Regions from separate parts of the Homo sapiens genome. Here region 2 is linked to region 1. The links come from fine-mapping of genetic effects on gene expression. Tissue or cell type: sun-exposed skin. Region 1 holds a variant in brackets; the other region holds the start of a gene. All regions are shown on one strand. Distances are between the middles of the regions.

Region 1 (8,335 bases):
GGAGTCAGAAAGACCATGGGGACTTTCTTGAGCTCTCCGCTCTGGAAGCTCTAGCTTCTCTGACCTTGGAGTTATTGATGATCAGCTTGCTGCTGGGAGAGCTGGTCTGAGGAAGAAGCCTAAAAAGGGGGGAAACAGAATAGAATTGTGGAGAGAGAGAAAGAGAGAGAGAATACAGATCCAACTTGAGCTTCTAGAACCAACTGTGCCTGAAGCTATGACCCATTACACAGCCGATACGTGTCCTCTCTCTGTTTAAGCTAGCTTGAGCCATATCCTCAGTTATAAATGAAAAATTCCAATTACTAATTGGTCTTTGGTGCAAAGCCCAACACAGAATTCTCCTAAGCTAGGCTGACCCACTAGTAGCACTCCTTTGGTGAGGTCCCCTTTTCCCCTAAGGCCAACCTGTTAGTAAAAAAAGCAAGTTACCCGGCCTCTGTGTGGGAGCAGGAAGACACAGGCCCTTCTGCTGGGGGTGTGTCTATCCTGGCCCTTCCCTCTCATGCCCAGTCTTCCCATTTCCCTTCAAGCTCATGTCCTGTGGGCCCAGGGGTGGGGATGTGACAGAAATGAGGTGCTCCTAGGACCACTAGAGAGCCCCATCTCCTCTGACGTGGGGTGGCACAGGGGTCACTGAGTGAGCCTCCTCTGCCCCTCATGGGAGAGCTCCTCGTGACTCACTGCAGGGTTGGGTGCAATGGGGGACAGGGTTTGGGAAACAGAGACCTTCTCAAGTGAGCTCAGGCAGAGGGGGATTTCCTAGCAGGCCACAGGAGACCACGGCCCACCCACATGAGTGCTCTCGGGTCCTTGGGAGCGTGTGCAGCTTCTCTCTCCTGCACCTGCAGGGCCTGTTTCCTCTGGCCCCTTCTCCTCACATCCATTCTCTGCATGTGGGTTCTGCAGCCTGGTGGCCTGCCCTGGCTCGCCCTGGCCAGCAGCCTCAGCCCCCAGCCCGTGCAGATGTCATGTCCAAAGACCCGACCACAGAGCCCAAGGTCTAGCAGGTACAGCTGCCAGATAAAATGCAGAACATCCATGCAACATTTGGGATGTGCTTATACTAAACTCTTACTCAAATTTTTATTTGAAATTCAAATATAACTGGGTATCCTGTATTTTTATTTGCTAAGACCTGACAACACTCATGGGAGGAAGCCCCCGAGTGGGAAGAAAGGTTAAGGTAGAAAGGGAGATCCCAGGATTGCTTTCTGGGGTGCACGCCTCCCTGCACCCCACCCCACAGATATTTAGACTTTGAGGCAGGCCTTGGGCTGGCAGTGCCCCATCATCAATGGGGGAGCTGTAAGTGGCTGCGAGGGGAACCAGAGCAAACCCCAACATAAGGCATGGCAGAGAAGAGGCACCCTGCTGCTCCTCCACATTCCCAGTCACCTGTGAGGGCCTCCAGTGACCAGCATTCCAAGATCCTCTCCCCAGCCAGCAGCCACTACTGGCAGTGACTATGTGGAAGCTCCCAGTGCCCTTGGTGGGTATGAAACTGCTGGGGTCCATCTCTAACCTGGCCCAGTCTTTGCAGGGAAGGATGATAAATGGCCACTTGTCGCGCCCGTGCCCACACTTCATGAAAGTGTCCAGGGGATGGTCAGTCCACCTCAGATCGCCCTGGCAGTCAGGGCTGGCATTCCACACGTCTGGGGGGCAGCCTGAACTTTGAACACCCCACCCTCAGGGGTTACCTAGCTGACCCTGCAGCAGGGATCTAAGCCTGTGAGGATGGCAGCGAGTCCCTGAAGCCTGGTGACCTGAGCTCCGGAGCTCCGAGAGGATGGCTGGCTAGATATTTAGTTCTCTCTCCTATCTGTGGTAATGACTAGCAAAAGGGGGCTGGTCGGGTTCTTTCCAGGAAGGTAACATTGTCACACAGCATAGAGTAAAGGGACCCCACAACCTGCTGGGCAGTGCAGTAGCCCCAGGCCACACCTCTGTGAATGGAGCTTCCTGGTCTGGGACCCCAACTGGGGCGAGCGAGGGGTGAAGTGAGCAGTGCACAGCACATGGCATTCCCACATCCTGCACCCTCCCACCCACCCTTGCCTCACTCATGCCGGGCCCTGGGGGTGGGATGAACTGAGAGCCAGAAGTCCCACGTGAATGCAAAGCACTTCCACCCTGCTCACCTCCTACCACACCAAGTGCTGTGGTAAACACGCTCTCCCAGAGATGGGCCGAGCCACGGGCTGGGCATGGATTCTCACCATCATCTGCATTTAGAGGATACCAGGACACAGAGGGGCTGAGGGGCCCGGCTGCCACATGCACTCACATCCTCGGAGGCGTCACCCTGAGTTCCTCCTACTGGGACCCCAGAAACAAGTCATCCCCTAAGAAACCCCAGAGTCCCAGAGTGGTGCCTAGCTGCCTGGCCCTGTTCAGCTCTCACAGGTCCTGCCTACGATGGTGGAGGTGCTCCCTCCTTCCCTCCCTCCCTCCCTCCCTCCCTTTTTCCCCCGCCCTCCTTTCCTTCCTTATGGGCCAAGTGCATGTGCCTGCTCCACTGGGTGGAGCAGAGTGATCAGGACCCAAATTAAGGGACTCCTGGGGCCCTGCAGACATGACTCCTCCCGGCTCAGTGTTTGCCAAACTTAGACTATGATCCACTAAGGTTTGGACATAAGCTCAGTGGGCGGCGATTCCTAGAAAATAGGAGTGTATCACACGTAGGGTGAGTGTTTCATGAAAATGGCATAAGTTATACACATACATGAATAAATGTACATACATCTGTACATGCATGAATACAGCAACTATGAATGTATACTTTAATTTTCTGTAGAGATGGGGGATGAGTGTAGGGTGAATGTGTCTCGCATAAGGGTGAGTGTTTTTGTGAAATTGGTGCCAGTTTTAGATATCTGTACACGCCTGTGCATACACATGCATGTGGGGGTGCCGTGGAGATTGCATCATCTCCTGTGGGTCACAGCCAAAGACGTCTGAGCAACTCTCTTTTATTCTGTTTACTTCAAGAGAAAGAAAAAGTAACAAGCCAAAAGCCCCTGGGCTTCTCAGGAAACAGGCTGAGGGACACTTTCAGCACAGGATCGGAAGGTCTGGGGGTGGAGACACATCCTTTGCCCGCCACAGACACTGGAGGGCGTGTCGACATTGCCTGCAGATGTCCAGGAAAGAGCTTGGACCCTAGGGGGCGGAAAACCGTGGGTCTGTGACCTTGACAAGCTCTCCAGCCTCCCGGATCACCTTCCTTGTCTTCCTTGTCTTCTTTGTCACCTGTAAAAGATCGAGAGCCTCTTGAGGCCGTTTTGAGATTAAACACACCACCTGCGAAGGGTCCTAAGCATGACCCTAGCGAGACCCTTCTCCTAGTCATTCTCACAACCAAAGGTTTTCAGCTTGAAGAGAAAGCCCGAGCTGTCCCCAGTGTCCCTTACTGTGACAAAGGCCCCTCGGAACAGCCCCGCCCCCACAGCCTACAACACATTGAAAGGACAAAACATAGACAAAACTTAAAAGAAGTAAAAACACACACGTTGCACCCGCCCCGTCCCTTAGCGTGCATAAGATATACACAGGAAGGAAGTGGCCAGGGTGATTCAAGGAGGCTGAGCTGCGACGGCTCAAGGAAAGGAATATTTCTGACAAGTCCGCCTTGACTGTGGTTTTGAACATGATTTCAGCCCTAGTTTTGGCCAGTCCCCCGGCCCCCGCCAGCACTTGTGTCTGCAGTCTAGACACAGCAGCAAAGGGGGACACCCATGCAGGAAGGCGCCCAGTGGGCTGCCCCATGGCCTTGGGGTTGGAACCAGGGCAGGATGAGCAAAAGCTGCTGCGCGCCGGCATTGACGGGGGGCTGTGGCTGGGGCAGGGAGGCGTGGGCTGCTGCCCAATCCACAGGGCTGAGGATGAAGGGGAGCTCCAAGAAGCCTGCTTCCCAGTATTTTCCCAGCTACTGACTCACAAACAAACCTGTTTTTGATTTCTGCTCTTAACCCGCTTCAGGCCCTAGCAGGTCCAGCCC[C/T]GTGGAACCAGGGAGCTCCAGACACGTCATTCTCAAACTCAAAAGTCCCTTCCACGCCCCTGAGATAGCAAAGACCCAGTTCCAAGCCTCTCCCACCTCCATCCACAGCCTCTCCTGCTTTCCAAGCCTTTCCACACCCCAACTCTGGCTCAACTGGGGGCAAGCACCTGATTCGAACCTCCCTTGGGGGGTACTGTTGGTTCCCGGCCCTTCTTCCCAGTCCTCTATAAAAGGCCTGCCCATCCCCAGAGCCAGCTCAATGCCACCTCCTCTGTGCACCTTCCTGGCTCTCCAACTGGCAAGTCTCTCTCCTGCTGCCACTGATCCTGCATTTTACTGTGTGGGCAGCTGTATGTCCAGCTGTGTGCAGCTGTGTGAACCTGAGCAAGTCACTTACCTCTCTGAGCCTCATTTCCCCATCCGTAGAATGGGGATATTGAGAGTTGTCTGCTGAGATGAAGTAACGGACGCGAAGCAACGAGCCTGGCACACAGTCTTGGCACCAGCATTGTACCACCAGTGGCAATGATGGCAGGCCTCTTACCCTCCACTAGGTGGGAATCTCTCTGGGGTAGGACTTGGCTGTTCTCTCTCCATCTTCTCTTAGTTCTAAAAAGATTTCCTACATCTGGCAGGTGCTCAAAAAAGAAATGTGAGGGGTGGTGTCTCCTGGTGGTCTGGGGCCAGAAGATTCTTCACATGGCGAGGGCAGATAAGACCCTGAGCTAGGCAAACCACACCTTTTGCAGGAGGGGCAAGAGCGGCTGTGGGGCAGCTGTGGCCTCGGCTGCCAGGGACTGGCGTGGGACTGATGTCCCTTGCATGGAGCCTGAGTGGCCAGTCAGTGTCAGCCCACACAGGGGCACCACTGCTTCCAGACCAAGGGCTCAGGGAGACCTCACAGGGCTGGGCTCTCAGGGCAGAGGTATCTTTGAGATGACATTCCCTGGGGCCCACAAAGGTGCCATAGTCTGAGCCCACAGGCTGGACGGGCATCCTAGCCCATAGCCTTCAGTAGAACGGGAGGTGGGAAACAGGTGAGTTCTTCAACAGTCCTGGCTCACTGCCCTGATCGCATGTACAGGGTGCAGAGCACACAGGGACTGGGGAAGGGGGGGACCCTGGTGGAAGAGAGTGGACTCCCTGAGAGAAGGGAACACAGCTGACAGCCCAGGGAGACCAAGGTGGCTAGGGTTTTTAGGACAGAGGACCTAAACAGAGAGAGCTGGCAAAACACAGCCCTGGACATCTGCAAAGGGACTCCTCGGTTATTCACCTCATGTGTGTGGAGAAACTGCCTGGGGCCAGGGAAAAGCCACCGCATGGAAGTAAAGAACAGCAGCTGGAGCTCCCAGGGGGCTCCCACCAGCCAGAACGCATAACTCCTGATTCACTGGCCATTGGGCACAGTACTCAGTGGGTAGCCTAAACTCAGCCCTGGACTAAGCACTGCTCCACGCCCACCTAACAAATCATAAAAGCAAGACCCAACAAGATCAAACAGTTTCTCAGTAGCTTCATTGTATCTCAGAAAAAAAGCTCAAGATTATTTATGTGTTTATTTTTCTGCTTTGTTTTGAGGCAGAGTCTCGCTCTGTCGCCCAGGCTGGAGTGCAGTGGGCGCTGGAATCAGGCATGTGCCACCATTCCAGCTAATTTTTGTATTTTTAGTAGAGATGGGGTTTCACCATGTTGGCCAGGCTGGTCTTGAACTCCTGGCCTCAAGTTATCCGCCTGCCTCGGCCTCCCAAAGTGTTGGGATTACAGGCATGAGCTACCGCACCCAGCCTAAGATTATTTATAATAATACAAAAATATCCAGCATCCAGCATGGTAAAATTCACAATATCCAGCTTCAAATGGAAATGACCAGGCCAGGTGCAGTGGCTCATGCCTGTAATGCCAGCACTTTGGGAAGTTAAGGCAAGAGGATCGCTTGAGTCCAGGAGTTCAAGACTAGCCTGGGCAACAAAGCAAGGCCCCATCTCTACAAAAAAAATTAAAAGTTAGCTGGGTGTGGTGGTGCATGCCTATAGTCCCAGCTACTCAGGAAGCTGAGGCAGGGGGATATCTTGAGCCCAGGAGACTGAGGCTCCAGTGAGCGGTGATCACACCACTGCACTCCAGCCTGGGCAACGGAGTAAGACCTTATTTTAAAAAAAAAAAAAAGGAAAGAAAGAGAGAACAAGAAAGAAAGCAAGAAAAGGGAGGAATCAAGAAAAGGGAGGGAGGGAGGGAGGGAAGGAGACAGAGAAAGAAAATGACCAGGTATAGGAGAAGGTGTGGCCCGGTTGGCTGGTATGGAACCTTCTACGGAGGGCAGAGGCCATGTCTAGATAGGAAAACAGGGAGCAGAGAGAGGCGGTCAGGAAGGAGCCCCCTTTCCAGTGCAAGAGCTCCAGGAAAAAAAATTCTCAACTTCACTTCCCCTTCCAGCAACCTTCCTTTTTCAGCAAAACGACCTGAAAGTTTTGTAAGTGCTCTGATTTCTCTCCTCCTTTCTCTCTAGTCTTCCTCCTTATTGTGAAATATAACATACATCCAGAAAAATGTTTAAAATGCAAATGTTCAACTTAGCAAGTTGTTGTAAAGCAAACACCTGTGTAGCCACCACTTGCATCCATCTGTATCCCACCTCCTCCATCCCCGTGCCCTTCCCCAGATCTCTGCCACCTGGCATTCCCAGTCAACACTTCCTTCCTTCCGTTGCTTTAGAGTTGACCACATAAGCAAGCGTCCCTAAATGATAAGGTCGCATCCGCAAGTCTTCGCAGGGTATAGAAATTGAATCGTGCAGTGTTTGCATGGTTTGAGATCTGGCTTCTTTCTCTCAAGATTATGCTTTTAAGATTTGGCCAGGCTGGGCGCGGTGGCTCACGCCTGTAATCCCAGCACTTTGGGAGGCCGAGGCGGGAGGATCACAAGGTCAGGAGATAGCGACCATCCTGGCTAACACGGTGAAAACCCATCTCTACTAAAAATACAAAAAATTAGCCGGACATGATGACGGGTGCCTGTAGTCCCAGCTACTCAGGAAGCTGATGCAGGAGAATCGCTTGAACCTGGGAGGCGGAGGTTGCAGTGAGCCGAGAGCACGCCACTGCACTCCATCCTGGGCGACAGAGGGAGACTCTGTCTAAAAAAAAAAATTTAACCATGTTGCTGTAGGCATTTGCAATTCATTTTTGCTGCAGCATAAAATCCATTATATGAATATACATTTTTTAGTCCATCCTACTGTTGGTGGACATTTCTGTTGTTTCCATTTGAGAGCTGTCTTAGTCAGTGTGGGCTGAGATAATAAAAAATAATAATACCACACACTGGATGGCTTAAACAACAAGCACTTATTTTTCACAGTTCTGGAGGCTGTAAGTCTGAGATCAAGGTGCCAGGATAGTTGGGTTCTCGGTGAGGGCTCGCTTCCAGGTTGTAGACTGCCATCTTCTCATTGTGTCCACACATGGTGGAGTGAGAGAAAGAGGCAGCAAGCTCTTTTGTGTCTCTTTTTTTAAGGTCACTAACTCCACCTGAGAGGTCCACCCGTATGACCTAATCATCTGCTGCATGCCCCATCTCCAAATACCATCACCTTGGGGGTTAGAATTTCAACGTATGAATTGGGGTGGTGCATATATACTCAGTCCGTAGCAGGGGCTATGATGAATTGGAGGCTCATGAGTGTACTTGTCTTCAGCTTTAGTGGATACTGTTACATCCTCCTCCAAAGAATGGAGATTCTACCACCAGCAGTGTTCTGAGTGCCTATGACTTCAAGGTCTCACCAATACTTGGCACTGTCAGACTTTCAGAATATGGAATGATCTCATTGTGATTTGAATTTACATGATTAAGGAACATTTACATGTTTATTGGCCATTTAGATATCTTCTCTTTCAACTTGTTGAAACATTTTGTCCATTGCTAACCTTTGAATGTGTCCCCTAGAAAGTATATGTTGGAAATTTAATCCCCAAAGCAACAGTGTTGAGAGGTGGGGCCTTAAGGAGAGGTGGTTAGGCCACGAGGGCAGAGTGAATGAATTTGTGCCATTATCATGGAAGTGGGTTTGTTTTCAAGGGTATTTTACTCTCTACCTCACCCTCTCTTTGCCCTTCCACCATGTGATGCCTTCCAACATGTCGTGATGCAGCAAGAAGACCCTTGCCAGATGCCGGCCCTTTAATCTTGACTTACCAGCCTCCAGAACTGTAGGAAAATTAATTTCTGTTCTTTATAAATTACCCAATCCTTGGTGTACTGTGATAGCAGCATGACACAGACTAAGACACCCATTTTTTCCCCTTTTACTCATTGTTCTCTCTCTTATTG
Region 2 (8,000 bases), 440 kb before region 1:
CTCTTATAAGATATCTACGTTACATGTGAAACAATACCATGATTTGAAGGTGAACACACATTAGTAAAAGAAGAAAATCTATATTAGAAACTCTAGGCTGGACATGATGGCTCAGACCTGTAATCCCAGCACTTTGGGAGGCCAAGGCAGGCAGATTGCTTGAGCTAACGAGCTTGAGACCAGCCTGGACAACATGGTGAAATCCTGTCTCTACAAAAATTGCAAAGATTAGCTGGGCATGGTAAGCTACTCAGGGGGCTAAGCTGGGAGGATGGCTTGAACCCAGGAGGCAGAGGATGCAGTGAGCCGAGATGGCACCACCGCACTCCAGCCTAGGCAATAGAGCCAGACTTTGTCTTAAAAAAAAAGCAAAGCAAAGAAAAAAGAAACTCTAGAATGGCCACTAAAAAATTCTTTAAAAAGTATAATTGATACTCTTTAAGAGAAGATAAAATAGAACCACACAAAATGCTCAATTAAAATCGGAGAAGGCAGAAAAAGCCGCCACTGGCAACCAGTAGGAAACAGTTACAAATATGATTGATATTCATCCAAATAGATCAACAATTGTGTTAAATGTGAATGGTCTAAATACACCAATTAAAAGACACAGATTGCTAGAGTAGATAACAAAACAAGACCCCACTATATCTTGTTGACATTAAATATAAAGTATCTGTTTGGTTAAAAGTAAAGGGATGAAGAAAGATATACCATGTTAACCCTGATCAAAAGAAAACTGGAGTAGCTGCATTAATTTCAGATAAAAGGGACTTGAGAAAAAGGAAAATTATCAGGGATGTGAGGGGAGGGATAGGTAAGAAACTCATAATCATAAAGGGGCTAATTCTCCAAGAATACATAATAACCCTAAATATGCATGTGCCTAAGAATAAAATGTCAAAATAAGTGAGGAAAAAATGATAAACCTGAAAGAAAAAATGGTCCAATCCACTATCATAGGATACTTCAACATTTCTCTATCCATGATTGATAAGATCAGATAGGCAAAAAATCGGTGAGGATATAATTGACCTAAACAGCATTATCAACTTTATTTAATTGATATTTGTAGATCTAGCAATAGCACAATACACATTCTTCTCAAGCTGGCATGGAATAATCACCAACATTGGCCACATTCTGATCTATAAAACACACCTTATCAAATTAAAGAAAAATAGAAATTAAACAAAGTATGTCTTCATACCACAATGGAAGTAACCTAGAAATCAAGAACAGAATGATAGCTGGAAAGTCCCAAATTATTGGAAACTAAACAACACATTTTTAAAAAACATTTGGGTCAAAGAGGAATCTCAAGAATAACTAAAAACATTGATCTAAATAAAAATTAAAGTACAACTTTTCTAAATTTGTGGGATGCAGTAAAAGCGGGGATATTTATAGCAGTAAATGTATACATTTGAAAAGAAGAAAAATCTAAAATCAACAACCTAAATTGTCACCTTGGATAATAGAGAAAGAAGAGCAATTTAAGCCTAAAACAAGCAGAACAAAGAGGAATAATAAAAATTAGAGAATGAAATTGAAAATAGAAAACAATAGAAAAAAATCAACAAAACAAAGAAAAAGCTGAAAAGATGATTAAAATTAATAAACCTGTCCAGGTTAACCAAGAAAAAAAGACATTGGGCATAGTTTGCCAATATCAAAAAATGAAAGAGGCGTCATCTCTACTAATTTCATAGATGTTAAAAGAATAATAAAGGTTTATGATGAACAACTTTACACCCACAAGTTTGAATATTAGATAAAAAGGACCGATTCCTTGAATGATACAACTACATTTTACAGAAAAGCAAACAGATCACCTAATAGCTCTGTATCCACAAAGAATCAATAATTAATGAAGTCTCAAAAAAATCACCAGATTCAGATGGTTTCACCAGGGAATTTTACCAAACATTTATGGAAGAATTGATATAGGTTCTTTACAATTTCTTACAGAAAATACAAGTAAATATTACTTCTTAACTCATTTTATGAGGCCAGCATTACCGGCATACCAAAATAAATTAAAGACATTACAAAAAAGAAAACTATAGCCAAATATTTCTCATGAACATAGATGCAAAAGTCTTCAACAAAATATTAGCATATTGAATACAATGGTGTATAAAAACAATTATATACCATGCCCAAGTAGAATTTGACCCAAGTATGCAAGACCGGTTCCTTGAAAATCAATTGAAAATCAATGTAACCCATCATATCAACAAGCTAAAGAAAATAAAATCACATGACCGTATCAATAGATGCAGAAAACGAATTTGGCAAAATCCAACATTCATTCATGATAAAAACTCTGCAAACTAGGAATAGAGAGAACTTCCTAATCTTGATAAAGAAGAACTAAAAAAATCCTACTGCTAACATCATATTTAGTGGTAAGAAACTGGATACTTCCCCTAAATTCAGGACAGGACTGTTAAGAGAATGAAAAGACAAGCTTCCACTGGAAGAAAATACCTGCAAAACACGTATCAGATAAAGTACTTCTATCCAAAATACACAAAGAACTCTTAAAACTCAACCATAAGAAAACAACCTTTTTTTTTTAATGGGCAAAAGATGTGAACAAACATCTCACCAAAGAAGATATACAGGTGCATATGAAAAGTTGCTCCACATAATTTTTCAGTAGAAAATTGAAAATTAACAACGATATAGCACTATATGCCTACTAGAATGTCTAAAATTATAGATGATAGACGGATGGATGGATGGATGGACAGATAGATAGATAAAGATAGCCAATATCAAGTGCTGGTGAGGATGAAGGAAAGGGATTCATATTTGCTGACAGTTATAAAAATGCTATAGCCACTCTAGAAAACTGTTTGGTTCTTATAAAGTTAAACAAATTTACCATAAGATCTAGCAATTGCACTCCTAGATATTTAGTCAACTAATTTAAAAAATTTGTCCGTACAAAACGCTGCATGCAAATGTTTATAGAATGTTTATTCACAGTCGCCAAAAACTGGAAACCACGCAAATATTCTCCAGTGGGTGACTAAACAAAATGTGGTACAAATAATGAGACTCCCCTCAACAATAAAAAGGACTATTACTATACACAATAACATGGATGAATCTCCAAGGTATAATGATGAGGGAATAAAGTCAGTTTCAAAATGTTACATATTGCGTAATTCCATGTATACGACACACTCACAAAGACAAAACCGTAGCAATGGAGAACCTATCAGTGGTTACCAAAAGTTAGGGTTGGCGGGGGCGCTGTTATAAAAGGGCAGAACTAGGGAGCTCTTTATTGCGCTAGTGGTTACATGAATCCAAACAAGGGTTCAAGATCACAGGATTATATATCAAATAACCAATTTTACTGAATATCAATTTTAAAAGTCAAATAAATTATTAAACACTATTAAACATATACAATGTTTAAAGTCAAGCAAAAAGTCCTAAACTAAAAGTAAAATAATGATTGTTTAGAAGTACACCAGGATGGTATGGGTCATCTGCAATATAACGTCCTGTTTGGGATAAGGAAGCGTGACTACATCTACAGGGTGACGTGAGAAGGGCCCAGAGCAGCGAGCAGGTCTTGCCATCAGGGAGGGGAACCATCTGAAGGGGTGGCGTGAAAAAGTCTTTAGAGGAAGGCAAAAAATGGGAAAAGGTCAGAGAACCTTTTTGGGAGGTAAAAGGACCAGCTTTGGATTAGGCGTGATGCACAGGCCCCAGCGCAGGGCGTAGAAACTGCAGCCTGGACAGCCTGGGTGGGAGAAAGTTTGGGATGTTTAGGAAGGAAGGGTGCGCCAGCCAGGGGGAAGAAACGAGACAGGTGGCCGCAGATGGCGCGAGTCAGGCAGCAGGAAAAGGCAGGCTGTTTAAGCAGCCTTTTCCTGCAGTCCAGGCGGAGAGCGCAGAAGGAGCACCCCGAGGGGCAAGCATGGGAGAGCCGGAGCGGGCTCGCGGGCGCGCGGGCGCTGTACGTCCCCTCCTCGGCTCGCGGCCGCGAGCACGCGCTCTCCGTGCCCGGCCCCGGAGGGGCGGGGGCGGGGCACAGGCGCGGCGCGCGCACGTCCGCGCGGGGCGGGGGCGGGGCGCGAACGCGACCGGTGACGTCAGAGGAGGGCGCGCGCCCGGAGGCAGCAGGCGGAGCCGGGAGGCGGGCGTTGTGCGCGGCCGCGGGCGGAGCGGAGGGGCGCGAGGGGCGGAGCGGAGCGCGGGAGGAGGCGGGGGAGGAGAGGCCACCGGGACCGCGAGCGGCAGCTGGGGAGGGGGCCGCGGAGCCCGAGCGGGAGCAAAACAGCTGATCTGGTTTTCCTTTAAAGCGAGAGAAAATGGAAGTCGGGTAGCGGCGACTGCGGCGCTGCGGGCTGGCGGAGCGGAGCGGCGCGGCGCGGCAGGTAAGACGGCGCTGGCCGCGGTGCTGCCGGCGGGCGGCGGGGCCGGGCCCGCGGACCAGGCAGGTGCGCTCTCCGGGCGCGGGGCCGGCGCCGTCTCCTTCCCGAGCTCCGTGGCGAGGCAGGTGGGCGTTGAGGCCGGGCGACCGCGGGGCCGGGGCGCGGGGACGCGGGGGGCGCGGGCCCCGGCTGGGCTCGCCGGCGCGTCTGCATTGCGGGCTCCGCTCCGGACCCCGCGGGCTCCCGGGCCACCGGCTCCGGCCCGGCGTGGCGCGCCTCTCTCGGGCAGGGCGCGGCGCTACCGCTGGGTCGGGGCTGCTGCCTCCGCTCAGCCCTTTGGCTGTCCGCACTGGAACGTGATGCCAGGCGTGGGGCGACCGACCCCTCGGTCCGTGCGCGCGCGTCGGGGGTCCCGCGGCTCTTGCAGACGGCCGGGCAGGGCCCGGCCCCGAGCCGCGCGCGAGGCCGCTCGCCGGGCACCGGAGCTGTGACTGCGTGGGTCCCCGCGGCCCGGCGCACCGCCGTCCCGCTCGCTCTGCTGGGTCTCGCTGGACAGCAGGCAAACCATTAAGGCAATTTGGCTGTGAACCCAGAGGCCTTCCCTAGTATCTCCTCACTGGAGGGGAAAAAATTGCATCTGCGGTGCTTTAAGTGCTCCTTTAAATTTGGGAGATGTCAGTGATGTCATCATTAACTAAAACTTTCCTTCATTGGACACAACCGCTCAAGTGTACCCTCCTCCCTCCCGGTGAAGCTATTGCAGCCCTTTGAGAATCTCTGTAATAAAATGGATTTGCCTCTGCTCTGTAAACTCAGCTACCTCACACAAGTGCAAATGACTTTTATTTCTGTCTATTGGCTTGAGAATGTATAGATTTAAGAGTAGCTGAAGGGAAACTTGTGAGACCCCGATCAGGGAAACGCTTCATCCACAGCACAAGGATCCAGGGGAAAGTCATGTATGACATGCACATGGTTACCGCCAGGTGATACCTTTGTAAATGGAAGTGGGCTGTAAGAGGAACAATTTTTAAAAATATGATGAGGCAGATAATGTGTCCAGGAAAAGGTTGACAGCGGGGCCTAAATCTTTACAGGTCTTAATTGCTTCAGGAAAATCTGCAGGTGTCCTTCACCATCCTCCTCCTCCTCCTCCAGGGTGTGCCCGGAGAAGCCTGCCCTGGGCGAAGGCGGGGAGGCAGGTTCACTAGGGTCCTCCCAGCAGCCGTGTGTCCCACCAGCTTCAAAGGCCTCTTCAAGACCCAAAGAGGGTTCACGAGAACAGAGGTAGATCTGCACGGCACACTCAGTTCTGGATAAACATTCCCCACTAAATGGGATCAACACTCCATTATTTTATTGTGAGTGTGCCATTAGTACCAATTCTTATGGGAACAAAACTAAGCAAGTTCCCAAGGCAATCTGAGTATCTACTCAAGCCTATCATATCGAAAGGATATCCAATAAGGGACAAAAGTATTGACATTTTTGTATTTAATAATTAATGACACCTCCTAATTGGTTAAAATAAGCATGCCTTAAATTGTTAGTGTGATTTTATTGGATCTGTAAGGAATTTAATACCATATGCCACTCAAAAGTTGGGACCTGGTTAGGAACTTCAATCTCTTGAACCCTGTATTGGTGTGAAAAGAATGGGAAAACAGTGGTTACTTAGGCCTTTAGTGTTCAGGCTGATAATGGGTGGAAATCGCCGCTTTACGAAGTATTGCCACGTGCGGGTCTCACTTGGGCCTGGATCATAGATGGCAGGTTTTCCCTTAGAAAGTAACTCCTGAGGCCCCCAAGCTTGGTGGAGAAGGAGAGGGGACACCTTTCTCTGAGCAAGTGTGTGTAATTCTTGGCCTCTGACCTCCTGATGGTGCCGCATTTATTCCCAATGGTGTGCCTAAGTGAGATGAGAAACTGGCTCCAAGTGAGCTGCTTTTGGATGACACTGCTCCCGCTGTGTGTAGTTGCTGTAGAACTTAACTCTTGAGTTGTGGCAGAGATTCTTCTTTACAACATGTCCTCAATAGTATGAAGATTGGTTTTTCAGGGTCTGCATTGCAAACTCTTTGAAAATGGAGTCTGTGAAATCAATCTGGCCCCGTATCCATCTTTTTGTTTTCACCTGTAGACTCGTGAAAATATTCACCACGTTTATGGTTTAACTCGCTGTAGTACTAGTAAAACTTCAAACGGAAGTGTTTCCACTAAATCTTTAGGTATGGGTCACTTATTTCCCCAAAACATTTTAAAACAACCGCTTTAAAGCCTCTTCATCCCGCTTGTATGTTTAGAGTGCTTAAATTTGGGAGTTGTCAGTGATTTCCCAAAAGAGATCACTGTCACATCTTCCGTTTCTAAGAAGTAAAAATTGCCCTGATTTTCTTTCTGTTCCCTTTGGGATATTAAGGTCATTTATTCATGCCTTAGGCCCACGGAAGAAAGGTTGAATTAGCTCTTGTGGGCCAGCAGGGGGCGTGCTAAACGCGGCTTGGCGGGCCTGTGTCAGAGCCACCTTGGGAGTGGATCTCCAAGTTGAGGTGGGTGCATGTGTGTGCGCCGGTGTGCTCCGCCCCCGCCCCCCGCCCCTCCCCCTCCGCTCCCGCATGCCTGTCTTCCAAGAGATGGAAACTTAAGGAAGGGTTGGGGGCACATACTTGAATGACCAGAGGTTGTGGAGTCTGGAATGTAGGCCTCCCTAGCAGAGATTGCTTCAGTGGCTCCATGTCTTTGGAAGGTGGCTCTTAGCACACTTTGAGTCTCAGGATTGAGTGCCTTCTCAGACTGCGGAAGTGAGTGTTAGTTTGGAGAGGAGAAAGTTGACTTCAGTGAACTACAGGCTGGTGTCCTGGTCATGGCGTGAATGTGCCAGCCAGGGCAACCCCGTGGAAATCCTCTCCTGCACACCCTTGATGTTTGCTCCTGGCTTTGACTCCCGATTGACTTAGGCCCTGGGACCCTGTGTGGTAGTACTTCCCAGAGGGGCCTATTTGACCCCTTGCACTGAATTATAGGTGGCGGATGTCCACTTAGGAAGTAATTCCTGTGGCCCCCAAGCCTGGTGGAGGAGGGAAGGGGCACTTTGCTCTGAGCAAGCTGTGTGCAAGTCATGGCCTCTGACCTTCTGATGGTGCCACATTTATTTCCATGACGTGCCTAAATGAGATGGGAAGGGCTCTTGGCCTCAAAATTTCTCTGATGAAAAACGTTTCGTTACTGTGCTTTTATTTTTCCCTATAAAATGAAAACAAGAAAAAGCAACTGTGCTTTTTCACTTAAAATGTGCTTTATCTGATTTTAAGTGTGTGCCAGGTTATTCAACCACATGTTCCCTGGGAGACTTTTCCTCGCAGGGACTGAACTCAGAGAGGCCAGCTTGTGCTCCAGGGCTATTTTGGTGAGTTGGGATGGGTGTTTCCCATGCTTAGATGGTCATTGCAGCATCTGGGTGTGTTACTGAAGACCAAAGACTCCTCTCTCCTACTGAGGTTCCTCATGGAGGCCCCATGCGAAAGGGAACATCACACTTTAAAAGGAAAGAAGTTTCACAGATGCCCTACTAGAGAACTAGCCCAGTGCTATGACTGGGCA

What was found. PIP is the estimated chance that this variant, and not a neighbour inherited with it, causes the effect.
Region 2: it holds the start of OTUD7A, and the variant in region 1 is fine-mapped to the expression of OTUD7A in sun-exposed skin (GTEx, PIP above 0.99).

Annotation. Positions count from the first base shown.
Region 1 is chr15:31,430,290-31,438,624 of GRCh38, reverse strand. It overlaps a transcript of KLF13 not described here. Among named protein-coding and RNA genes, the nearest start is that of KLF13, 110 kb to the right of the region's middle. RefSeq lists an enhancer at 3,258-3,777. The variant C/T (reference allele first, on the strand shown) is at 4,004.
Region 2 is chr15:31,866,910-31,874,909 of GRCh38, reverse strand. It overlaps OTUD7A (OTU deubiquitinase 7A), which reads left to right and starts at 4,237. Exons shown (of 13, transcript NM_001382637.1): 1 at 4,237-4,403. RefSeq lists silencers at 4,205-4,274, 6,770-7,064.